Homo sapiens: one gene and its partners. The protein of the gene in region 2 purifies or fractionates together with the protein of the main gene of each other region. This does not show direct contact. Each region holds a gene or a part of one and is shown on either strand. Other genes may lie near its edges. The genes, in order: TFRC, SLC35G1, HS2ST1, PACSIN2, RER1, TMEM63A and SUPT5H.

Region 1 (3,500 bases), on a different chromosome or scaffold from region 2:
AAGCTCTCCCCTAAGATTAACACTTTGGCCAAAATTTGGCAGCATATTATTCTTTAAAGTCTGACAAACTGAGTCTGCAACTAAACACCTGAAACTGGTTCTCTTTCAATGTGCTTTGGAAGAAACAAAAATAACAAAGAACTAAATGGAGGCTTATGGGGGAAGGGACAGAGGAAAAGAAAATATACTAAGTCTTTGGCTTCTGGTCCCCTCTTTTCATAAATGACACTGAGGTTAACATATTAAGGCCTTATTCCTGCAATCAACAGTTGAACCTCATTTTATCCAGCAGAAGGACCTCCATTTCAGACCTCATTGGCAAGAAAACAAGCCCATCTCTTCTGAAAGTTAACTGTTTCTTTCAGGAATGAGGAAACCAGCTACATTCCTTATGGAAAGGCTTAGATCTCATTTGGAGAAGGTCTTTCAACCTGGTATCTCCTATTTAGCATCAAATGAAGTTGGAGGATCACTCAAAGTAAGCGACCACTTACAACCTTCAGCAGAGACCAGCCCTTAGGATTCAGAGAGATCATTCACATAACTGGTTTCTGACATTTTCATTAACAACAACAGGAAAGAGGCAGTTCCCATTACAAAGCACTTAAAATTCTAGAGATAGGGGAATATTCCATCATGGACATTTTTTAAGTGGTTATTCACTTTAACTTGAAGTACAGGTTATCTACCCTGTATTAAAAGCTGCTGCCTAAAGACATCTAGTAGTACCAAGATGATGGGATGGAATTTTAACATCAGGTTTTGTAGCCCTACTGAAAATTTAGCACGATCAGCACAAGTCTAGAAACCAGACTACCCTGCTGTTCTCATGGAAGCTATGGGTATCACATTTAAAACTCATTGTCAATGTCCCAAACGTCACCAGAGAGGGCATTTGCAGCTCCCTGAATAGTCCAAGTAGCTAGAGCCAACTGGTTTCTGAACAGCGTTTCATTAAAAGCACCGTTATTTTGTTTACGCAGTTTCAAGTTCTCCAGTAAAGCTGGCAGCGTGTGAGAGCCGGAGCCCCAGAAGACATGTCGGAAAGGAGACTCTTTTGGAGATACGTAGGGAGAGAGGAAGTGATACTCCACCTACGAAAACAACACACAAGGCAATTTACACAGCCCTGTGACTTTTGTAGTAAAACAACAGTTCACTTCAAATGTAAAATGTCCCAAATTTAAGAATGCCGATCAGACTTTTTTTTTTTTTTTTTTTTTTTGACACAGAGTTTCGCTCTTGTTGCCCAGACTGGAGTGCAACAGCGCTATCTCGGCTCACTGGTACCCTCCACCTCCCGAGTTCAAGCAATTCATGCTGGGATTACAGGTGTGAGCCACCGTGCCCGGCTTTTTGTTGTTGTTGAGACAGAGTTTCGCTCTTGTTGCCCAGGCTGGAGTACAATGGCGCGATCTCAGCTCACTGCAACCTCCACCTCCCGGGTTCAAGTAATTCTCCTGCCTCAGCCTCCTGAGCAGCTGGAATTACAGGCATGCACCACCACGCCCAGCTAATTTTTGTATTTTTAGTAGAGATGGGGTTTCTCCATGTTGGTCAGGCTGGTCTTGAACTCCTGACCTCAGGTGATCCGCTTGCCTCGGCCTCCCAAAGTACTGGAATTACAGGCATGAGCCACTGTACCCAGCCAGCTGATCAGACTTTCTATAGCAGAGTAAGGAAAAAAGAATGCTGAGAACCAGGCTAATGCTAATCTTCTAAGGTTAAAATTCTAAAGGAGGCTAGGCACAGCGGCTCACGCTTGTAATACCAGCACTTTGGGAGGCCAAGGCAGGTGGATCACTTGAGGTTGGGAGTTCGAGACCGGCCTGGCTAACATGGTGAAACTCCGTTTCTACTAAAAATACAAAAAATGAGCCGGGCGTGGTGTTGGGCACCTGTAATCACAGCAACTCGGGAGGCTAAGGCAGGAGAATCACTTGAACCTGGGAGGTGGAGGGTGCAGTGAGCCGAGACCGTGCCATTGCACTCCAGCTTGGGCAACAACAGTGAAACTCTGTCTCAAAAAAAAAAAAAATTTTTTTAAAGGAAACTGATTCATTTTACAAAGGAAAACTTTAAATGTGTTCAGATTCTTTTCCCCATTGGAGCATACATGGAAGTTTTACAGCAAGTCTCTTCCAAAAAGACTAGGTTTGACTAAGTTCTGAATTAGACAGCAGAAACAGAAAATGACAGCTAAACCATTAATGCTCCCTTCTTAAAGGAATTCTAGACTCCTAGAGTTTGTCCACTTTGCAGAAGTGTAAGATTTATCGGTTATTTTACACATACTTTAGTTCCTCCTTTCCCAAAAGTTCACTTACTCTCATGACACGATCATTGAGTTTCTTCATGACAAATCTGTCTGTTTTCTCAGCATTCCCGAAATCTGTTGTTAGTCTGGAAGTAGCACGGAAGAAGTCTCCACGAGCAGAATACAGCCACTGTAAACTCAGGCCCATTTCCTGAAACAGACATTATTCGCTATGAGAAGTTTTATTTCTAAGGACATTCTTTTGTATGCCTTTCTAATTTAACGTGCGTTAAGTAAGATTCTGATAAAAGGAACTCGCAGATAAGCTCAAGACTCCGAAAGCACCTTGCACAGGGGTTCCAAGCTCTATGGACTGTGATATACACTCATATTTGAGCCCAGCATGTAAGAAAACCATTCTCATTAAGAAATTGAACATAATTATATAATCCTATGTACTATATTGTTTCCAGTTCAATTCTCCTTTTGGGGGAAAATGTCCCTATAGGGGAAAACATTTTGGTTCAAGGTACTTCAGGATTTAGTTATTTCCACCTGGTAAGTTCCATTTTCAACAGTTACAATTAGTTTCAAGAAAGACATAAGATGCCGGGCGTGGTGGCTCATGCCTGTGATCCCAGCACTTTGGGAGGCCGAGGTGGGTGGATCACCTGAGGTCAGGAGTTCAAGACCAGCCTGGCCAACATGGTAAAACCCCGGCTCTACTAAAAATACAAAAAATTAGCCGGGCGTGGTGGCCGGCACCTGTAGTCCCAGCTACTCGGGAGGCTTAGGCAGGAGAATGGCGTGAACCCGGGAGGCGCATCTTACAGTGAGCCGAGATCTCGCCACTGCACTTCAGCCTGGCCAACATGGTAAAACCCCGGCTTCTACTAAAAACACAAAAACTATCTGGGCATGGTGGCACACGCCTGTAATCCCAGCTACCTGGGGAGCCGAGGCAGGAGAATCGCTTAAAGCCGGGAGGTGGAGGTTGCAGTGAGCCGAGATCATGTCATTGCATTCCAGCCTGGGGGACAAGAGCGAGACTTCATCTCTCAAAAAAAATAAAATAAAAATAAAAATAAAAAAGATATAAAAAGATTCGGTTGTCAGTGATTTACTTCAATTAAGAGATCTGTTAAAAATCAACTCCTAGTACCATAAAACAATCTGGAAGCTACTTTAATATTAGTTTTATTAATTTATTTAGAGATGGGATTTTGCTATGTTGCCTGGGCTG
Region 2 (3,953 bases):
ATATTTTAACTCTTTAAAAATGTAATTGCACCCCCTTGGCCCTAGTGACCTTTCCCCTTAAAACACATACACATGTATTTTCTTGCCTATAAACACTTAAGGCTCATGCTTTCCAACTGGGAAGGGACAGACATTAGAAGGCCTCGCTGCATTTGATGATTTGTTAACGAGGGTGAGGACTGGCTCCACTCAGACAAACCTCAGTTTCTTACTAAATCATTTCAATCCTGTCAATGGAGATGAGCATGACTAGCATAACTGAAAGAGGCATTTGTTTAGGTTCCATGTTCATATCTCACTGCAAGCATATCTAATAATTTGGTAACTCAAATTATTCAAATTAGGTAAGTGGCCATGGTGTAATTTCCTCACTTAGAAGAAAACTGAAAAATTACTCAGCTTCTCTATCCTCTGCTTTCAGCTGGTGATTCGCAATCCTGGTTGGGAATTAGAATCACCTGAGTAACACTTAAAACTTTAATTCCTGGGTGCAGTGGCTCATGCCTGTAATCCCAGCACCTTGGGAGGACAAGGTGGGAGGATCTCTTGAGCTCAAAAGTTTGAGACCACCCTGGGCAACACGGGGAAACCCCCTCATCAATGCAAAAAATATTTTTAAATTAGTCGGGTGTGGTGGTGTGTGCCTGTGGTCCCAGCTACTCAGGAGACTTAGATGAAAGGATCGAGTAAGCCCAGGAGGTTGAGGTCGCCGTGAGCTGTGATCACGCCAATGCACCACAGCCTTGGTGACAGAGTAAGACCCTATCTCCAAAAAAAAAAAAAATTAATTCTCAAGCCCCATCTCAGACCCACCGAAATAGAATCTCTGTAACTCTAAAAGGCTCCACTAGTTTGAGAACCACTGCTACACTCGATCACTAACTCCCTCCAGAGGATGTGAGGCACAGGCCTAAGAAACTACTTCTCCTTGCTTCAGTGTAAGACCCACACTGTCCCTGAAGAAAGTAAGGAGATGTCTTGGGACAGCTGTATGTGTCTGTTAAGGTCATCCAAGAATGTAAGACATATGGGTAACAGTTCCAACCAGAACTTGAAAAAAGCTTTGTTGAGATAAGCAGTTAGAACAAGAGGTGTCACAAAGTTCAATGACAACAGTAAAGTGTTTTTATGTCAATTTTCTTTCCAAAATATTATCTTGTCACCTTACAATAACTAAGTCTTACTGGTAGAAACTTTCTTTGAAGTTAAACACCCACAAGATTCTTAGATACACTCACGTAAGTTTCTCATCTTGCCATGAGCTGCCTGGGAGTAGAGAATTCCTCTTCCATTCACAAAAAGGGGAAACTTTAAGAGTTTGCATGGACTGATTCGGCATGCCACCAGAAGGACATTCACCCAGAGGGTGATAGGTGAGAAACTGACCTTTTCAAAGGCTGCTTATCTGTTCAATTCAGCCTGGCATAACCCCTGTTCTAGAGGCACCAGCCCATTTATAAATGATCACAAGTCTGATCATTTCGGTTTGCCTTTAGGACAGAAATGGAGCAAGAATAGTCTTCCTAGAGTCTGTCTCTCTAACTTGGGGAAAGTGCACAAAGGGAGGAGGGGAAAGCGCAGTGAGAGGAGAGGAACAGAAATCCAGGGTCACACTTAGGGGAGGTGACCCAGAGGACAAGGTGGTGCAGGCCGTGTAACTGTCCTAAAAAGAGATCTGCCTATTCCCTTCTTCTTGCAGGAAGCTGCTCCTGGTAGATGGTCGACTTCTAAGAGGAATGTGCTTGAAGCAGCACTTGTGGCCAGTGGAAAGGGCCCTAGGCCGGTATATGGCAAGCTGGGATCCTAACCCTGGTGCTCCCTGGACATGCGCCCCATCTCACCCCCACGTTCCACATCTTGGAGGAGACAAAGCAAACGAAAACCCAAAAGCCCTCACCTTCCTGGGCCTCACTTTGCTCATGTGTCGAAGGAGGGGGACTGAACATAAAGTGTTCTTCACGAGGGGTCCCTGACTTTGGGGACGGGGCTGTGAGCTTCTTAACAAGATATGCCTTGTTCTGCATCGTTTGCTAAAAAGTCCTTGTATCCCTAAAGGTTAAAAACTAGCGGTCCCACTTATCTCTGCCTTTCCAAGATTCTAAAACTCTAGGACGAACATTTTTTCTAGACTCGATGCTTTTCAGCTTCCTTTTCGGAGAGAACCCTTAACCACCGGGATCACTTTTCAGGGTCAGCTTCCTCGCAACGTCGCCCCACTGCAGGATGGCCTCTCTCGCTGACCCCCCACCTACGACCTAGGGGAGGGTACGCCAAACTGCAGTCTGACTCCACAGCCCTGCCCCGACACTAATTACAGGAGCAGCCTCGGAATCCCAAAAGGACTGCTAACAATCGGAAAGTTTCTTCCGTCTTAGCGCCGGCTGGGGCGCCGGGAATTCCGCTTTGCAGCCCCCCAGCTGACAGCTCGAGGGGTTTCCCGAGCCCCGGGCAGGGTGGGGACGGAGGCGCGGCGGGCACTGTGCCCGGGTTGCGGGGACCCCAACCCGCCGGCGCCCGCTCGGGACCCCCGAGCGAGACCAGAGCCCGATCCACACCGCGCACTCACCCGGCTCGGTGCGGGAGCAACACGGCGAGGAAAGGCAGAGCCAGCACCTACCGCGGTCTGGCGCCCCAGCTGCCTCGGCGGCCGCCGGCTCCTCAGTGGCGCCCGGGGGTGCATCGTCCGTTAGCGGCAGCCCGGGCTCCTGGAGCTCCGCGACCCCGGTGCTGTCCTGAGGCCGCATCTCGCGGCACGCGCTCTACCAGCGGCCGGTGCCGTCTGGCGCCAGCAGCAGCGCCTGGGCTGCCGCTCTTCCGGCGGGCGATGGCGCCCATGCGCATGCGCGCCCGGCCCACCCGCACCCTCCCCCAAGGAGACCGCGCGCGTCCTCCGCTGGCCTCTTAACCTGGGGAGACCCGCTGCCTCCCTGGTCGGGCTGTGGTGCCCACAGCTGGCTCTAAGGCGTCCAACCCTCTGCTGCGTTCAGGCTACATGGCCCAGCTGCTTGGAGCCATCCTTGGCAAGTCACACTGAACCTGTCTGTCATGGCACAGACAAGGAGGGGCGCTGGGTTCCCAAGCCCTGGCGCCCGGGGGTCCTGTGGCCTCCTTTTCAGGAGGCTCAAAGAGTGGGCGTTTTTTCATTGATGTAACCACGCATTCAGCACCTCTGTGATACCCCGAAGATTTTACAAAGCACCATGCTTGTCTTTAAATGGTCTAGGGTTTTTATGTTTTGTTTTGTTTTGTTTTGTTTTGTTTTGTTTCCCGTGTTGTCCCTTTGCTGCTTACCAAGGAGGGTAGAATTTTGCTGTTTTGGGAAATATTTTTAAGAAAGAATTAGTGTGTAATTATAGGAAAATATATCTATAAGACTGACCAGAACCCATTTATATGTTCTTTGCATTCTTTGCAAGAGTAGGCATGCATTATTGATCTTTGGTTTTCTTTTCTTAAATGGAAATATCCTAATTTGGCCAGATGTAAGATTCAAGTAATCTGATGTAATTAGACCTGGTAAAATATATTCTTTGGCCCAGGATTCACTAACAGCCTCTTTTTGTTTAGCTAATAATTCTTCTTCCATCTCTTTGCTTGCTTTATATGTGGAAGAACAGTCTCTGTGCAAGGATGAACGTATCTAAACTTCTAAGTCCAGTGCCAAGCAGATCACCAAAGGAGAGTGAAGTTTGCCTTTACTCAGACATTTGCACATAGTGATCCACAGCTGAAACAGTTTTAGACTTGAAGTCAGGAATCCTAGGTTCTGGCCCTGAGTGTGTGACCTCAGTCACCACTGTACCCCTCGAAGCCTTGATTACCTCCTTTATTTAATAGCGATCAAGTATTTCCCTTCCTGCTTCGCAGAGTAGTTATGTAAATAAAATGCAATGATGTGGGCAAAAGCATAATATCACCTGGAAAACACTATGTTAGAAAATCAAAGTGTGTTT
Region 3 (3,500 bases), on a different chromosome or scaffold from region 2:
CAAGCCTTGGCAGCTTCCACATGGTGTTGAGCCTGCGAGTGCACAGAAGTCAAGAACTGAGGTTTGAGAACCTCAGCCTAGATTTCAGAAGATGTATGGAAACACCTGGATACCCAAGCAGAAGTTTGCTGTGGGGCGGGGCCCTCATGGAGAACCTCTGCTAGGGCAGTGTGGAAGGGAAATGTGGGGTTGCAGCCCCCACACAGATTCCCTACTGGGGCACCACCTAGTGGCGCTGTGAGAAGAGGGCCACTGTTCTCTAGACCTCAGAATGGTAGATCCACTGACAGTTTGCACCGTGCACCTGGAAAAGCCACAGACACTCAATGCCAGCCTGTGAAAGTAGCCAGGAGTGGGGGGCTATATCATGCAAAGCCAAAGGGGTGGAGCTGCCCAAGGCCATGGGAGCCCAACTCTTGCATCAGTGTGACCTGGATGTGAGACATGGAGTCAAAGGATATCATTTTGAAGGTTTAAGATTTCACTGCCCCGCTGGATTTCAGACTTGCATGGGGCCTGTAACACCTTTGTTTTGGCCAATTTCTCCCACTTGGAATGGCTGTATTTACCCAATGTATCTAGGAAGTAACTAACTTGCTTTTGATTTTACAGGCTCATAGGCAGAAGGGACTTGCCTTGTCTCAGATGAGACTTTGGACTGTGGACTTTTGAGTTAATGTTGAAATGAGTTAAGACTTTGGGGGACTGTGGGAAGGCATGATTGGTTTTGAAATGTGAGGACATGAGATTTGGGAGGGGCCAGGGGTGGAATGATATGGATTGGCTGTGTCCCCACACAAATCCCATCTTGAATTCCCCTGTGTTGTGGGAGGGACCTGGTGGGAGGTAACTGAATCATGGGGGCAAGTCTTTCCCATGCTGTTCCCATGATAGTGAATAAGTCTCAAAATATCTGATGGTTTTAAAAAGAGGCATTCCCGCCAGGCGAAGTGGCTCACACCTGTAATCCCAGCACTTTGGGAGGCCAAGGTGGGTGGATCATGAGGTCAGGAGATCAAGACCAGCCTGGCTAACACAGTGAAACCCCATCTCTACTAAAAATACAAAATATTGGCCAGGCGTGGTGGCAGGCACCTGTAGTCCCAGCTACTCGGGAGGCTGAGGCAGGAGAATGGCGTGAACCCAAGAGGCGGAGCTTGCAGTGAGCCGAGATTGCGCCACTGCACTCCAGCCTGGGTGACAGAGTAAGACTCTGTCTCAAAAAAAAAAAAAAAAGGCGTTCCCCTGCATAAGCTTTCTCATTTTTTGCCTGCCACCATAAGATGTGACTTGCTTCTCCTTGCCTTCTGCCACAGTTGTGAGGCTTCCCCAGCCATGTGAACTGTAAGTCCAATTAAGCCTCTTTCTTTTGTAAGTTACTCAGTCTCAGGGCGTCAAAACGGGCTAATACAGGATGTTAAGGAAAGAAATGATACATAATTTTTTAAAGACCTATATTAAACTTCTAGAAGGGCAGGGGGAGGAGTGGGAGGCAACGCCTGAGATAAAAAATAAACTGGGTAATATTAAAAGTGGATTACATACTGCAGAAGGATTGGTGAATTAAAGACCTAGCAGTAAAAACTATCTAAAACAACACACACACACACAAAAAGACTGAGAATGATGAATAGAACATCACTGAACTGTAGAACAATTTCATGTGGTCTAATGTAAGTGTATTTTGAGTTCCTGAGAGGAGAAGCAGCATAGAAAAACTAACGTGAAGAAATAATAGCCAAAAATGTTTAAATGTAATAAAAACTGTAAACTCACAGATCCAAGAAGCTCAACAAACCCCAGGCACAAGAAACATAATACAAGGGCACAAGAAACATAATTTAATAATTAAATAATTAAAAACCTAGTGAAACTCTTAAAAGTAGGCAAAAGAGGAAAAATAAAAGACACGCTACATATAGTTGAACAAAGAATGATGGCAACCTTCTCATCAGAAACAATGCAAGCCAGAAGACAATGAAGCAATATCTTTAAAGTACTGAAACAACAAAAATGTCAGCTTAGAATTCTATACCCAACAAAAATATCCTTCAAACACTATAGCAAATAAAGACTTTTTCAGACACACAAAATGAAAAGAATTCATCACCAGTATATTTTTAAGTGTAAGTAATGTTAAAAGAAATTCTTCAGAGTGAAAAAAATGGTACCACATGAAAATCTGCATACACACACACACACACACACACACACAAAATGAAGAACACTGGGAATGGTAAATATGTCAGCAAATTTTTAAAAAATTTTTAAACATTTTATATATTTTTAAAATATAAGTTAAAGCAAAAATAATAATGTATTGTAGGACTCATGTATAGAAGTAAAATGTATAATGACGATAGCAAGAACCCAGAAAAAAGTGGTAATATATTAAGGTTCTTATACTACACATGAAATTCTATCATGTATACCATAAACCCTTAAGCAACCACTTAAAAAAAAAACAACAACAAAGAGCACTGCTAGTAAGTCATCAAATTAAAAAATGGAATTTAAAAATACCCCTTTAATCCTAAAGACAACAGAAAAAAAGGAATCACAGAACAGTTAAGATAAACAGAAAACAAATAGCAACTCACGAATTTAAACCCAACCACATCAATAATCACATTAAGTGTTCTAAACATTCCATTAACAAAAGAGATTGTGAAATTAGATGAAAGATTAGATGCTGTCTACCAAAAATCCACTTTAAATATAAATACACAAGTAGGTTAATATTAACAGGATGGGAAAAGATATACCACCTGACACTAATCAAAAGAAAACTGAAGTGTCTGTATTAGTATTAGACAAAGTAAGTATCATAGTCCATTGTGTGGTACTATAACAAAATACCTGAGACTGGGTAATTTATAGAAAACAGAAATGTATTTCTTCACAGTTCTGGAAACTGAGAAGTCCAAAATCAAGACACCAGCATCTGTTGAGGGACTTCTTGTGGCATCCTCACATGGTTGGGGGTAGAAATGGCAAAAGGGGGACAAATGCTGTCTTCTTACGTAGAAAAAAGAGAACACACTGCCACAAGCTCTTTTATAACAGTATTAATACAGTTATGAGGGGAGAGCCCTCATCACCTAAACACCCTCCACCTCCCGCCCCAATACTGTTGCATCGGAGATTAAGTTTCCAACATGTGAATTTTGGGGGAGACATTAACACCACAGCAGTAGGTTTCAGAGCAAAGAATATTACCAAGGATAAAGATGGTATCTTGTATAAAAAAAAGGGTTGGTCCATCAAGAAGACATGACAGCCTAAATGTGCATATACTTAATCACAGCACTTCAAAATACATGAAGCAAAAAGTGACATAACTACAAGAAAAACAGACAAATCCACAATTATCAAAGATTTCAAAACCCCTCTCCATAACTGATGAAGAGGCAGAAAAAAATCAAGAATACAAAACACCATAACAATACTACCAACCGACATCTACAGCATACTTCAGCCAATAACAACAGAATACATAT
Region 4 (3,500 bases), on a different chromosome or scaffold from region 2:
GCAGGAGAATCACTTGAACCTGGGAGGTGGAGGTTGCAGTGAGCCAAGGTCACACCACTGTACCCCAGGCTGGGTGACAGAGCAAGACTTTGTGTCAAAAAAAAAAAATTAGCTGGGCTAATTTTAGTGGCACATGCCTGTAGTCCCAGCTCTCTGGGAGGCTGAGGTGGGAGGATCACCTGAGCCCAGTAGATTGAGGTTGCAATGAATCATGATTGTACCACTATACTCCAACCTGGACAACAGAGCGAGACCCTGTCGCAAACAAACAAACAAATAAATAACCTGGGCAACAGAGCGAGATCCTGTCTCAAATAAATAAACAAACAAAAGTAGCAGATTAGCTGGGCGTGGTGTTGCATACCTATAGTCCCAGCTGCTTGGGAGGCTGAGGCAGAGGATCACTTAAACCCAAGAGGATACAGTGAGCCATGTTCATACCACGTACTCTAGCCTAGAAGAGAGAGCAAGACCCCATCTCTTAAAAAAAAAAAAAAGTAGGCTGGGCATGGTGGCTCACGCCTGTAATCCCAGCACTTTGGGAGGCCGAGGCACACAGATCACGAGGTCAGGAGATTGAGACCATCCTGGCTAAGAGTGTGAAACCCCGTCTCTACTAAAAATACAAAAAATTAGCCGGGCGTGGTGGCAGCCGCCTGTAGTCCCAGCTACTCGGGAGGCTGACGCAGGAAAATTGCTTGAACCCGGGAGGCGGAGCTTGCAGTGAGCCGAGATTGCGCCACTGCACTCCAGCCTGGGCGACAGAGCAAAACTCTTTTTCAAAAAAAAAAAAAAAAGCGGATGCCCAATGCCAAGACTCAGAAATAGTGAGGTGCTGCCAAGCCAGTGCCTGGACTCCTCACCTTGCTGGGCCAAGGCTGTGAATTGCAGGGCACTGGCTAGTCACACAGAAGGGCATCTGGAGAAGCTGTTGGCCAGGACCACCAGGTTCCCCCATATGTAGTCTGGGAGCTGCTAGCCCCGCAGGGCCATGAGAGAAGCCTTTCTCTAGGGGTCCCCAACTGCCAGAGAAGCCCTCAGGAGAGCCACAGCTTTGCCCAGACCCCAGAGTAGCACTTGGCATGCCCCTGGGCCAGGTGGGGCCTTGTCTCAGGCAGCAACTTGTGTGTGTGCACACCTACCTGCCCACACCTACCATGCACACACCAACCCACACACATATCTGTGTTGCTAGGAGCAGAAACCATAGTTTTATAAAACAGCCTGGATCCTGATTACATGTGCTCTGCCTGTGAAGACTTTCTGTGCAATGTCTTTTTCTTCTTTGAATGGTCTTCAATGATAATCTTTTTTTTTTTTTTTTTTAATAGAGACACGGTCTCACTCTGTTAGCCAAGCTGGGTTACAGTGGTGCGATCATAGCTCACAGCAGCTGCAGCCTTGATCTCCTGGGCTCAAGCAGTCCTCCCACCTCAGCCTCCTACGTAGCTGGGACCACAGATGTGTGCTACCACCCCACCCACTATAGGAATCTTTTTTAATGCATTTGCAGTTTACCAAAATGGCTTTTCACATCTTCAATTTGAAAAGTGTTATCTTGTCCGGGCACGATGGCTCACACCTGTAATCCCAGCACTTTGCGAGGCCAAGGCCGAAGGATCACTTGAGGTCAGGAGTTTGAGACCAGCCTGGCCAACATGGTGAAACCCTGCCTCTATTAAAAAATAAAAAAATTATTCAGGCATGGTGGCACACACCTGTAATCCCAGCTACTGGGGAGGCCAAGAGAATCACTTGAACCTGGGAGGTGGAGGTTGCAGTGAGCTGAGATCATACCACTGCACTCCAGCCTGGGTGATGGAGTGACACTCTGTCTCAAAAAAAAAAAAAGGAAAGAAAATTGCTATCTTAGCACCTAAGGAAGCTGGAGTGGCCTAGGGCCAAAGTGGACCCACAGCAACCCAGATTCTTCCCTCTCTTGCCCTCTTTGTGAAGCTCCCCCAGAAGCAGCATCTACCACTCCAAGAGGGAAGCTGGGCCAGAACTCAACCCACACAGGCTGAAGTGTGCCCTTGCCCCTAGGCTACACTTGTGGGAAAGGCTGCCTTACCACCACCACCCCAACCCCTGACTCAGCAGGGAAGCCAGGGCCTGGGGGCTGTGCCCAATGGCCTAGCTTCTAACCAGTCTTCAGCCTCCTCCCCTCAGCACCCAGAGTGCCAGCCTGCTGTCCCCAGACACTCTTCCCCTGGGCTGGTTATCAGCTGCCTCTGCCCAGTTTGAGAAGTTGGGTTTTTTTGTTTTTTTGGATTTTTTTTTAATGTGCCTTTAAGCCATCTTCATCCAGTTTCTGATATCTTTGGTTGGGGTTGTTACCCCCGACTTTGTTGGTTTATTTGTTTATAATTTCTAACTCCTTTTCAATCCTGCCTATTGGGTTTGACAGTAATTTTGTAGATTTAAAATGTTTCTTCCAGATCCAAGTAAATTGTCAAAAGCAAACTGATTGAAATGAACCTTCTAATCACCAGTTCACATTTGCACAATGTGAAAGCTTTCCTGTCCGTTCTATTTTCTGTGTTATCCTGCTTTTTAACAATGCAAAATTAGCTCCCAGCCAGTGTGGCTTGACTTACGTCTCTTGCGGTGTTCTGGCTGTTTGCCACATGGTAGTGTGGGGTTACAGGCCTCATCCTAGCCTCGGTAGCCTGGATCCAGGCCTGTGAGAGCACAGCAACCAATGAAGGCAGGACAAAAGAAACGCCAGGGGCCCGAGGCACGAAGCGGTGGAAAGAGATGGTGGTTCATCGTGGCTGCTGCCCTGTGGCCCCTGCATCTGCTCCTGATGCCTCTGGGTTAGATCTGCAGGCGCACTGGTCTGGCAGAAGCGGCACGACAGTGGGAGGCTGAGCCAGTGCTTACGCATGTCCCACCCTCCCAGGGTTCTTTAGTGTCTTAACACTTAATCTTCACAGTACCCCCAGTCCACAGATGAGGGCCACAGGCCCAGGGAGTGGACGCAGTTGGTCCAGGTCTCCCAGCCAGTGAGTGATGGCTGTGGGATTTGAGCCCAGGCAGTCCGGGGAGCACTGGAAGCCCCAGGTATTAGCTCCGCAGGCATGTTGACCAGCATTGCTGCCATACAAAATCCAAAGCATCAGGGAAATGCTAAACCAGGGGGAAAACTGCATCTAATTCTGAAAAATGGACCAAAAAATGCCAAAGAGAGTTACAAAACTTCAAACTTAGCAATAAAGGCAAAACAGCACTGGGACTATTTCTTTCCCACCAATTGCTTGCTCCTGACGAGGTCCGAGCCAGCAGGCCCAACTGGCCTTCCCTGCAGTGAGTTACCAACCAGAAGCACACAGGCCCCTGCCCACCCCTGGGCTCTGAGCTGCTCTGCTTCCCTAACCTGGCAAATGCCAGACCTGGGGCCCTACCCTAGTGCCACCTCCCCCTCACCACCCTAGTCTGCCTCCTTGAGACCAGGATCCATCAGTTCCTCTCATCTCTGTATCTCCTCTTCTACCCAAGGC
Region 5 (3,500 bases), on a different chromosome or scaffold from region 2:
TTTAGGCAGAAAGACTTCTTGTTTGTATAAGAAAGTTAAAGCATTTATATTTTTATTTATTGTTTTGAGATGGGGTCTCACTCTGTCGCCCAGGCTGGAGTGCAGTGGCCTGATCTTGGCTCACTGCAACCTCCACCTCCTGGGTTCAAGTGATTCTCTTACTTCAGCTTCCCGAGCAGCTGGGATCACAGGCATGTGCCACCATGCCTGGCTAATTTTTGTATTTTTAGTAGAGACGAGGTTTCACCATGTTGGCCAGGCTGGTCTTGAACTCCTGACCTCAGGTGATCCACCCGCCTTGGCCTCCCAAAGTGCTGGGATTGCAGGCGTGAGCCACCACACCCGACAGAAATTTAAGGCTTTTGAAATTGAGAATGCGGTTCTGGCTTTTAACGGGATATGCTTAATCATTTTAAAAAATGAATTAGTTGCAAATAAGTGTGCTGCACTCAGGCATCTTGCCAAAATTCTCCCCACTTTTCATCTCTTGAGGAAGGCTTGGCATAAGCACACTTTTCTGGATTTCCCAGTTGTGGATTTCTTCTGGGCAAAGGTTTAACCCTCCTGGCAGAGTGTTTTTGGCAATGTGAATTGTCTGTTGGAGGAACATCAGCCAGCACGCCTCCAGTCACAGTTGAGAGTCTGTCTTCTGTTTCTGATGAAGCTGCTCCTGGGTGGGGCTCTGGGCCAGCATCGCTCAGGTGCCCGGGCCACCCGAGCCTGTGGTGTAGCTTGAGCATGTGCTTCTTGAGAAAAGCCTCCTTTTCTGCTGCGCTCCTTGTGGGGCGTCTGTGGCTTCAGGGATCACATGTGTCTAACTGGACCCTTGAAGAGCTTTGCTCATTTGGGCCCTTGCTTGTCCGCTTTGTCTCTGTTCCCACAGAGTATAATTTGAGATAAATTGTTACCATGGGATTTCACTGTATTTCCTTGTCCTTGCTATGAGTAAGTTTTGTGTTAAAACAAAGTTAGATCAGTTAACAAAGTTGAGAGTGAACCGGAGTGCAAACGTGAACTGGCTCAGGCTGATGGACGGTCAGAGTGCACCACTGACTCTCTTTCCTTCTCTTTCAGGGTTGGTACATTGTGACCTATGCCTTGGGGATCTACCATCTAAATCTTTTCATAGCTTTTCTTTCTCCCAAAGTGGATCCTTCCTTAATGGAAGACTCAGGTAGGGTAGCGGCTGTGCACTGGGCTGTGTGGGCAGGTTGGGCCTTTCTTTTCTGATGGGATTGCCCAGTGTTCTCTGGAAACACCCGAGACTCTTCTCTTGGGGTTGAAATGTACTTGTAATGTTGGGTGATCAGGATATGTTTGTAGAATGACTCTTCAAACCCTCCTGACAGCCACGAAGTGGGTGTTCATTCTGTTTTCCCACTTTGCAGATGAGGAAACTGAGGCATACAGGGTTAGGTAACGTGTTCGAGGTCACATGGCACCACAGACAGTAGGGGTCTGAGGTGGACAGTCCGACTCCAGCCCCCGTCCCACCCCAGTCAGTGGTCCCTCTCAGAATCAGCGGAGGCAGCCATGACGAGGTTACCTTTTCCCGTAGCCAGAGGGTTCCACAGGCAGCTCACTGTGGTGCACAGAGACCGCCGGGACTCTAATGCCAGCATCGGGTCGGGTCAGGCTTTGGGCGGCCTTCTCTGGTTTCTGAGGAGCTGTGAGCTGAAGTGTTCCTGGTGCTTCGTGCTCCACTATTGGAAGACTTACGCAGCTCCTGGGCCTGCCTGGGCCAGGTAGGGGCCCTGAGTTCATGCCTGACTGGCCAGCCCCAGGCGAGGAACAAACAACTGCATTCCAGGACGTGGTGGCCATTGAGGGAAAACCCACACGCAGCTCCCTGCCAGGACCCTCCTCGTTCTGGGGGAACCTGCTGTCAGGGAGTAGGGTATGCTCTCACTGTGTGGCCAGAAGCCTGTGAGTCTTCTGTGTAGGATATGTGATGAAAAGATTGCTGGGAACACAGCCCCTCTCTGTTGTTGCTGTTTGGAGGAGACTAGAAAATAACAAAGAGCCCCTTTCCTGTAGGCCTCAGTTTTCCCATCTGTAAATGGGGAGCGGCACCCATCCCAGTGGGGGAGGCGGGGTGAGAGTGGGCTTGGCACAGCTGCTGGTGGGACAGGCCTGGCGCCCGGGTTCCACGGTCAGCGCATCCTCGGCCCCGCCCTGTTCTCTGCCGCTTGCTTTTTATGTTAATTTGCCTTTGTTTTCTTCTGTGCCTTTACGTGGTGCAGCTGACGTGTTCCTGGATGTTTATATGTGGTTGAATTCTTCGTGCATTGAAAACGTGTGGAAGTCTAAAAACATTCTGATAGCACCTTCTGAAAGCAGTGAATTGGATGTGTCAGTTGACCACAGACCCCCGTTTTCTCGTTTTCTCTGGTTAAATGACATGAATCTCGGTTTAGATTTGTGAGGCCTGCTAGTCCAAAGCCTTGAGGGGAAAAGGTAGAACTGTGATGGGAATGAAAAGAGGTGCCCTCCCTGATGGTTGCTCTGCCTTACAGATGACGGTCCTTCGCTACCCACCAAACAGAACGAGGAATTCCGCCCCTTCATTCGAAGGCTCCCAGAGTTTAAATTTTGGTGAGCTAATTCTTCACGGTATTTGAAGAGAATTGTGCTCAAGGGTGGCTGAGACTGAGACTACACTGATTTTTGTTCAAGTCACCTGAAAGATGACTGCTGTGCTGGGCTGGGCACGGGGAATCGCAGGGGCTCTCTGTAGAAGGCCACTCACTACCTTGCCGCATTCTCTTGGTTTCAAGTCAGCACCAGTGCCCTGGAGGTTGAGTCTGGGATGGAGTGCGCACCGGCTTCTGTGGTTGTGGCCTGGGGAGGGCAGGCCCTCTGTCCTCCCTCCTCCTCCCTCCTCCTCCCTTCCTCCCTCCTTCCTCCCTCCTTCCTCCCTCCTCCACCCTCCCTCCTCCCTCCTCCTTCCTCCCTCCTTCCTGCCGCCTCCTCCCTCCTTCCTGCCTCCTCCTCCCTCCTTCTCCCTCCTTCCTCCCTCCTCCTCCCTCCTTCCTCCCTCCTCCTCCCTCCTCCTCCCTCCTCCTCCCTCCTTCCTCCTTCCTCTCTCCCATCCCCAGCCTTGTGGCTCCTTTTGGCTGGCAGAGGGACTAGCCTTCTCCTGGAGTCATTTTTGAGAGGGGTTTGAGCCGAGGTGTCCGTGTCTGCACGGGTAGGCAGAGGTGGGTGGTGCAGCCGTCAGAGGGACGGGAGCGTGTGCATCCGTTTGTCTTGTCCCTCATACCCCACTCTGGGAGCACAGGAGGAACCCAAGTCTGTTAGATCAGTAAACTGAAGGAGCCTGCTGAGCTCGTGGGGCTCCACGCCTTGACTTTGCAGCCGCAGATGGAGTGTGGTACAGAAAGATCAGGGGCCCTGGAAGCCACCAGAAGCTTGGACTAGGAAGGGAGAGCTGAGCCTCCAGGGCCGTGGCATCTGTTGGCCATGTGCTGGGACGGGAGGGAGCACTGGTGGCCATGCCA
Region 6 (3,500 bases), on a different chromosome or scaffold from region 2:
TTTTTTTTGAGATGGAGTCTCGCTCATTGGTCAGGCTGGAGTGCACTGGTGCAATCTTGGCTCACTGCAACCTCTGCCTCCTGAGTTCAAGTGATTCTCCTACCTCAGCCTCCCGAGTAGCTGGGATTACAGGCGCCTGCCACCATGCCCAGTTAATTTTTGTATTTTTAGTAGGGACAGGGTTTCATCATATTGGCCAGGTTGTTCTTGAACTTTTGACCTCAGGTGATGCACTGCCTAGGCCTCCCAAAGTGCTGGGATTACAGGCATAAGCCATCGTGCCCAGCCCCAGGTTCTTTTTTAAAAAATAAATTTTGTTTTGAAAGTGTAAATACTGTAGATTTTTAAAACTACACAAGAAAGTATACAGGGAAAACTAAAACAACTTTTCCCCCTAAAACTCAGCTATCACTGCCAGCAGTCTCTTGGGTTTTTTGTTTCCTTCTAGAGCCTTTCATTAATCTGCCAGTTGCAGATGTTTTATTTCAGTGGCCAGGACCTTGGTCTTTAAACAGTCCTGAGTTCAAAGGCTGGTTCTCCTGCTTACTAACAACATACGAAGTTATTTTGTGTGAAGGGGGAATAGAAACAGGAACTGCCTTGTAGGATGAGGTGAGAAATGTGGTAATCCACGTGGAGGCAGGCATCTGCCAGAGTGAAAGCAGCACGAGAGCTTTGATTGTGACTCTGGCACTGTCTTACTTGCTGCTAAAGAAATCAACCATGAACGACATAGTCAGTGGGCAGAGAACCTCAGACCAGAAATACTAAGAGAGGTCCTAGCTGAGGGCCAGTGGGAGGAATTCATTTAAAAATGAATGAGGCCGGGTGCTGTGGCTCATGCCTATAATCCCAGCACTTTGGGAGGCTGAGGCGGGTGGATCACCTGAGGTCAGGAGTTCAAGACCAGGCTGGCCAACATGGTGAAACCCCATCTCTACTAAAAATACAAAAAGTTAGGCAGGCATGGTGGCGGGCACCTGTAATCCCAGCTACTCAGGAGGCTGAGATGGGAGGATGGCTTGAGCCCAGGAGGTGGGGGTTGCAGTAAGCCAAGATCATGCCACTCCAGCCTGGGCATCAGCATGAGACCCTGTCTCAAAACAAAAAAAGAAAGAAATGAGTGAAATCTGGTGTCACGTGAGTCTTTAGCAGCTTGTGGCTCTTGTGGCTGTGGTTTTGGGAACTCCATTGTGCCCTGGTGATAGCTGTCCCCGAGAGGTTTGGTGCAATCAGCCGTCCATGTACCCATGTACCCTGGGACAGGCTCCAGGGCCACTCACCAAATGGCGCGATGATGGGACAAGTGATGCTGTAGGCCACGATGACAGTGAAGACACACAGCATCCATGCATACATGGCTCCAAACTCGTACTGGAAGGCCTGGTTCTGGGAGGAGGAGGTGGTGAGGAGCTCATGGACTTGTTCCACCTCAAACACCCTTTTGTGCTCTCTAAGTGGTGATGGGAGAGCAGGGTGGAGGAGGACTTTGGAAATAGGAGATGCGTGGCTCCCCGCCTCCCAAGGTCCTTCCCATCCCTCCCAGCCTGCCCTGCTTCACTCAGTGCACCCAGCCCTCCCGAGGCATGGTGATGCGTGTTTGCTAGTGCTCCCTTCGTTCCACCCAACAGGCATGTGAGCCCCTGGAGGGAAGAGGTGGTCAGGGAAGAGGTGTAGAGTGACTCCAGCCCTTCTAGCAGGGGATCCTGGGCCAGCTTAGTTCATGCCTCTGTGAAATCGGGATACTAGCAGTGCCCAGCTCATAAGGGGGCTGAGAATGAAATGAAGGAATGCAGCACTTCTCCCACTTTCCTCGCACAGTGCCCACCATGGCAGAGGAGAATAAAAGAGAAAGCCACACCCTCCAGTTCAGGGAATCCTGGAATAAATGCCACAAGCCGAAAATGCCTTTGACATCTGGGGTTTGGCTAAGAATTTATGCAAATGGGTGCCTACAGAAAAAGAGTCTGTTGGTTTGAGTTGTATGTATGTATGTGTGCGATCAAACCGTTTCAAATGCCAAAGTCCCAAGCTCTCTCCTCCAGCCTGTGAGCTAGAGAGGAGGCTGGAGGAGGCCACGCCTGCCTGGACCCGGGTTTGAGAAGCACTTAGCCCAGTGCCTGCACTAGTGGGTAGTCAGGTAAATGCTACCCACTAGTGGGGGTAGTGGGGGTGAGAGGCCCTCGGGTCAGTGAAGGGGGACATGGGAGGGAGTCAGAGGCACAGCCCTGGGCCCAGGGGATGGCACCTGCTTGACATTCCTGCGGTCAGCAGCCGTCTTGGCCATGATCATGCGGAAGGTATAGAGGATGAGACCTGGCAGCCGCAGCAGCTCCATGCCATTGCCGATGAAGGCCGAGGCGATGACATAGTTCACAAAGAAGGCACCCTGGTCAGGCAGGAAGACGCACCTGGGGAAACCAGGGCCCAGGTCTGTGAGCTGAGAGCCGCTCTTGGAGGGAGAGGAGGGGCCCCTAGGCTGGGCAGGAGCAGAAAGCCCCTGGGAGGGCTGTATACTCTTCCGTTCATTCAGCACATATTTGGGAAACACATCTGTGTGCCAAGCACCTTTCTAGGCACTGAGAATAGAACAAAGCCCCTGCGCCACTCTCTTGAAGTTCACATTCTAGCTGGGGGCACAAACAAGCAGACAAACAAATATTCCATCTGCTGGGGACGGTGAGCACTAGAGGAAAACAAAGCAGGGAGGGTTCCTATGTCATACAGGGGTTGGAGGAGCCTTTCTAACGAGGTGATATTCGTGCAGAAATGTGAAGAGGTGAAGGAGCAAGTCATCCCCAAACCTGGGAAGACAGGATTCCAGGGAAAGGGAACAACATACAAGACACCTGAGGATGTCCTCGTCTGCTGCACATCCAGGGGCTGGACAGCAGTGGGCGAGGGGAGGCAGAAGACAAGGCTGAAAGGGGCTGGGGGCCAGCCCAGGACAAGGGATCTGTTCCAATGGGGTCAGGGAGACTACACAGATGGCCACTGTGTCATCCCCATGTGGGATGAGGGCGGTTGTGATGGAGGTGGTGAGATATGAAGGGATTCTGGATCTACTTTAGAGAGAGTTGTCAGGATTTTCTGGTAGGCTGGGTATGGCATGGGAGGGATAGAAAGGAAACAAGGTGAACTTTGAGGTTTTTTGCCAAAACAAGTAGAAAAACAATATGGAATGGGGAAAGTTGTAGAGTAGCAGATTTGAGGGTAAAAGTCGAGAGTTTGGTTTTGGGCAGGTAACATCCGTGGTACCCAGTAAAACTCCAGCTAGAGTTTGAGGTGGGCAGTTGGGTTACCAGCCTGGAGGTGCAGGCTAGAGGCATAAATGTGGATGTTGTCCGCATAAGTTAATTCAGGAGCAGTATCATGGCATGGAAGCCGTGGGTTCAGCTGAAGTCACCTAGAGAGGCAGTGTGGACCCAGAACTGGGGGCTGAGCCTTCAGGCAGCCAAAATCTAGAGTTGGGGAGATGGGAGAGAACCCACCAAGGAGGG
Region 7 (3,500 bases), on a different chromosome or scaffold from region 2:
TCTAGCCTGGGCAAGAAGAGTAAAACTCCATCTCAAAAAAACAAACAAAAAAATGAAGTCTTGATATATGCTACAATATGGATGAGTCTTGAAAACATTAAGTGAAGCAAGTCAGTCACGAAAGGCGACATATTGTATGATTCCCTTTGTATGAACCATTCAGAGTTCCAATAGTCAAATCCACAGAGAAAGAAGGTAGATTCATAGTTACCAGGAGCTGTGAGGAGGGAGGAATGGGGAGTGATGACTAATGGGTATCGGTTTATTTTTGGGATAATGAAAATGTCCTGGAATTAGATGGTGATGATGGTTATGAATACACTACAATATATAAAATCCACCACAGTTTACACTTTAAAAAAATTAAATTTTAGGCTGGGCACAGTGGCTCAGAACTGCCATCCCAGCACTTTGGGAGGCCAAGGCGGGTGGATCACTTGAGCCAGGAGTTCAAGACCAGGCTGGCCAACATGGTGAAACCCCGTCTCTATTAAAAATACAAAAAAATCAGCCGGGCATGGTGGCGGATGCCTATAATCCCAGCTACTCGGGAGGCTGAGGCAGAGGTTGCAGTGAGCCGAGACCACACCATTGCACTCCAGCCTGGGCAACAAGAGTGAAACTCCGTCTCAAAAAAAAATAATAATCAGAGACATAACTCAAATGAAGTAACTAGAATTTTACCCCAGGGTACCATGTAGGAGGATTTGAGCACACTTCTTTTAATTATTATTATTATTATTTTTTTTTTTTTTTTTTTGAGACAGTCTCGCTCTGTTGCCCAGGCTGGAGTGCAGTGGCACGAGCTTGGCTCACTACAACCTCCAACTCCTGGGTTCAAGCAATTCTCCTGTCTCAGCCTCCCAAGTAGCTGGGATTATAGACATGCACCACCACCCCTGGCTAATCTTTTGTATTTTTGGTAGAGACGGAGTTTCACCATGCTGGTGAAGCTGGTCTCGAACTCTTAACCTCAGGTGATCCACACGCCTCAGTCTCCCAAAGTGCTGGGATTACAGGCGTGAGCCACCGCGCCCGGCCTATTATTATTTTCTTTGTAGAAATCAGTTGTCACTATGTCACTATGATGTCCAGGCTGGCCTCGAACTCCTTTTGCCTCAGCCTCCCAAAATACTGGTATTACAGACATTAGCCACCACACCTAGCCAAAAGGTACCTTTTCAACCTCCCTGTTGGGGAATCATACCCCACAAATCCCAATCTCACCCATGACAGGCAGGGACACTTATTACTATAATAATGAGGAAGACATTCCACCCCCTACCCACCCCGAGACGGAGTCTCACTCTGTCGCCCAGGCTGGAGTGCAATAGCGCAGTCTTGGCTCACTGTAACCTCTGCCTCCTAGATTCAAGTGATTCTCCTGCCTCAGCCTCCCAAGTAGCTGGGATTACAGTCAAGCACCACCATGCCCAGCTGATTTTTGTATTTTTGGTAGGGACAAGGTTTCACCATGTTGGCCAGGCTGGTCTCAAACTGGCTGGTTTCGAACTCCTAACCTCGTGATCCACCCACCTCAGCCTCCCTAAGTGCTGGAGATTCAGGCATGAGCCACCATGGCCGGCCTTTGAGGAGGACATTTGAGCACATTTAAAAGCATAGTTTGCAAACCCTACAACTGTCTACTTGGTCCCACTGGGTCACACCCAGTGGCTGGACAGGTGAAAGCATGATCCCTAGCAGGGATCATGTTAACTGAGAAAGTTACCAGCCAGCACCCTTCATAGCGTTTGCCCTGGTTCCCAAACTGCCAATGAAGCCTTTGACAACAGCTCTGCTAAGTAAATGCAAGCTGCAGAACAAGTCCTAGCTGAGAGCTGGACATAAAGCCACCTAATCCTTTTTTTTGTCACACTGGAGTGCAGTGATGCGATCTCGGCTCACCGCAACTTCTGCCTCCTGGGTTCAAGTGATTCTGCCTCAGCTTCCCAAGTAGCTGGGACTACAGGTGTGCACCACCACGCCCAGCTGAGTTTTGTATTTTTAGTAGAGACGGGGTTTCACCACGTTGGCCAGGCTGGTCTCAAACTCCTGACCTCAAGTGATCTGCCTGCCTCAGCCTTCCAGAGTGCTGGTATTACAGGTGAATGCCACTGCACCCAGCCAAAAGCCACTTAATCCTAATGATGCTGAGAGGCAACCAAGGGGCCCAGAGAGGGGAAGTAGGTGCATCAGAGTCACACAGCTAAGAAGTGGCAAGGGCAGGACTCAAACTCTGTCAGTCTAAAGAAAGACCTGGGCCTTGGATGCAGCATTTGCTGCCTGGCATGTGGTGAAGTGGGTGACCCCAGCCCAACAGGGCTGGTGAACAGGCAAACCCACTCTCATGAAGAAAAGGTGCAGGAAGCTAGCTGGCTGACTTCCAAAGGGCTACAAGGGTGGGAAGACCCTGCCATAAATGCAGAGAACAAAGACAACATATCCATCTAGGCCGAGAAGAGCCCTTCCATCTAGGCAGTGGTCTTATTCCAGCTCAAGCAGCTCACTCAGCAGGCAGCTCTGCTCACAACAGAGGCACCTGGTACCCCTGAAGTTGACAATGTTCTTCCCTCTGGGTGTTGCCATGTCTCCCCACCAAGCCGCCTGTCTACCCGACTTACCGTGTCTGTGAACTGGTAGGCAATGAACTTGCGCATCAAGGAAATGGCCGTGGCCCGTTCCTCCCCAATCTGGAAGATGAGAGGCAGATTTGAGAGAGATGACAGGATGGAGGAAAGGACACAGGAAAGGGGGAAGGAGACAGCAGCAAGAAAAATAAAGTAGGACCAAGAGAGGAGAGAGAAAGAAGGATGGACAGCCAGGAAGATGGAGGTGGGAGATAGCCAGTCAGTAACGTGGAGTGAGGGATGGAGACAGAAGGACCAAGTGACTGGCAGGCCACGGAGACCCGGGACAGACAGACACTTCTCCCCCACAAAGCAGCCTCCCTCATTCTCCCACCTCCTCCAAGCCCCGAGATCAGAGCACATACCTTACATTTGACAGTCCACAGATTGGGATCCCTAAGCAGCAGAGGAAAAGGAAGGCCTTCAGTGAAGCTGGATCTTCAGTAACAAACAGACGAACCCCCAGGGCCACCCCCTTCCTCTGGTTTCACATCCAGGTTCCCTCACACTCACTGACTTCCCCACGCTTCTACCCAGGAGCAAGAGGAAAGAGAAAGTGCCACCTTGCCCTCCCTACCCCTGCCATCCACCACACTGCCTGTGTGACTCTGCCCTGACTTATTTCAGGGAGCCACCTGTCTAGGCACCATCACCCCATACAAGATTCGCACCCCAGCACGGCCCCCACCATCCCAACCCCCTTACTTGACTCCTGGGAGCAGCTGCTGCTGGGTGATGTCGTCTGAGAGCTCATCAGATCCTCCATACACCCTGAAGGGAGGAGGGCAGTCAGGAAGGGGTGAAGCTCTGTCAGATCCCCGCCCCTTCCCGCTTAGGGACCACCTGCTCCCTGCCCCCACCTGCCCCCACCAT

The links.
Region 1: the proteins of SLC35G1 (region 2) and TFRC purify together in Homo sapiens (affinity purification with mass spectrometry; one large-scale study listed by BioGRID and IntAct). This does not show direct contact.
Region 3: the proteins of SLC35G1 (region 2) and HS2ST1 purify together in Homo sapiens (affinity purification with mass spectrometry; one large-scale study listed by BioGRID and IntAct). This does not show direct contact.
Region 4: the proteins of SLC35G1 (region 2) and PACSIN2 purify together in Homo sapiens (affinity purification with mass spectrometry; one large-scale study listed by BioGRID and IntAct). This does not show direct contact.
Region 5: the proteins of SLC35G1 (region 2) and RER1 purify together in Homo sapiens (affinity purification with mass spectrometry; one large-scale study listed by BioGRID and IntAct). This does not show direct contact.
Region 6: the proteins of SLC35G1 (region 2) and TMEM63A purify together in Homo sapiens (affinity purification with mass spectrometry; one large-scale study listed by BioGRID and IntAct). This does not show direct contact.
Region 7: the proteins of SLC35G1 (region 2) and SUPT5H purify together in Homo sapiens (affinity purification with mass spectrometry; one large-scale study listed by BioGRID and IntAct). This does not show direct contact.

The regions. Positions count from the first base shown.
Region 1 is NC_000003.12:196,051,091-196,054,590, forward strand, and holds part of TFRC (transferrin receptor protein 1), read right to left. Parts: intron 2,469-3,500; coding exon 2,328-2,468; intron 1,095-2,327; coding exon 852-1,094; 3' UTR 1-851. UniProt on the Homo sapiens protein: Cellular uptake of iron occurs via receptor-mediated endocytosis of ligand-occupied transferrin receptor into specialized endosomes. Endosomal acidification leads to iron release.
Region 2 is NC_000010.11:93,892,825-93,896,777, reverse strand, and holds the start of SLC35G1 (solute carrier family 35 member G1), read right to left. Parts: upstream 2,801-3,953; 5' UTR 2,745-2,800; coding exon 2,567-2,744; intron 1-2,566. UniProt on the Homo sapiens protein: May play a role in intracellular calcium sensing and homeostasis. May act as a negative regulator of plasma membrane calcium-transporting ATPases preventing calcium efflux from the cell.
Region 3 is NC_000001.11:86,921,135-86,924,634, reverse strand, and holds part of HS2ST1 (heparan sulfate 2-O-sulfotransferase 1), read right to left. Parts: intron 1-3,500. UniProt on the Homo sapiens protein: Catalyzes the transfer of a sulfo group from 3'-phospho-5'-adenylyl sulfate (PAPS) to the 2-OH position of iduronic acid (IdoA) or glucuronic acid (GlcA) within the heparan sulfate (HS) chain and participates in HS biosynthesis.
Region 4 is NC_000022.11:42,872,150-42,875,649, reverse strand, and holds part of PACSIN2 (protein kinase C and casein kinase substrate in neurons protein 2), read left to right. Parts: intron 1-119; exon of another isoform or gene 120-3,158; intron 3,159-3,190; exon of another isoform or gene 3,191-3,500.
Region 5 is NC_000001.11:2,398,341-2,401,840, forward strand, and holds part of RER1 (protein RER1), read left to right. Parts: intron 1-1,074; coding exon 1,075-1,174; intron 1,175-2,516; coding exon 2,517-2,595; intron 2,596-3,500. UniProt on the Homo sapiens protein: Involved in the retrieval of endoplasmic reticulum membrane proteins from the early Golgi compartment.
Region 6 is NC_000001.11:225,851,381-225,854,880, forward strand, and holds part of TMEM63A (mechanosensitive cation channel TMEM63A), read right to left. Parts: intron 2,412-3,500; coding exon 2,249-2,411; intron 1,390-2,248; coding exon 1,284-1,389; intron 1-1,283. UniProt on the Homo sapiens protein: Mechanosensitive cation channel with low conductance and high activation threshold. In contrast to TMEM63B, does not show phospholipid scramblase activity. Acts as a regulator of lysosomal morphology by mediating lysosomal mechanosensitivity.
Region 7 is NC_000019.10:39,459,082-39,462,581, reverse strand, and holds part of SUPT5H (transcription elongation factor SPT5), read right to left. Parts: intron 3,399-3,500; coding exon 3,333-3,398; intron 3,024-3,332; coding exon 2,993-3,023; intron 2,691-2,992; coding exon 2,622-2,690; intron 1-2,621. UniProt on the Homo sapiens protein: Component of the DRB sensitivity-inducing factor complex (DSIF complex), which regulates mRNA processing and transcription elongation by RNA polymerase II.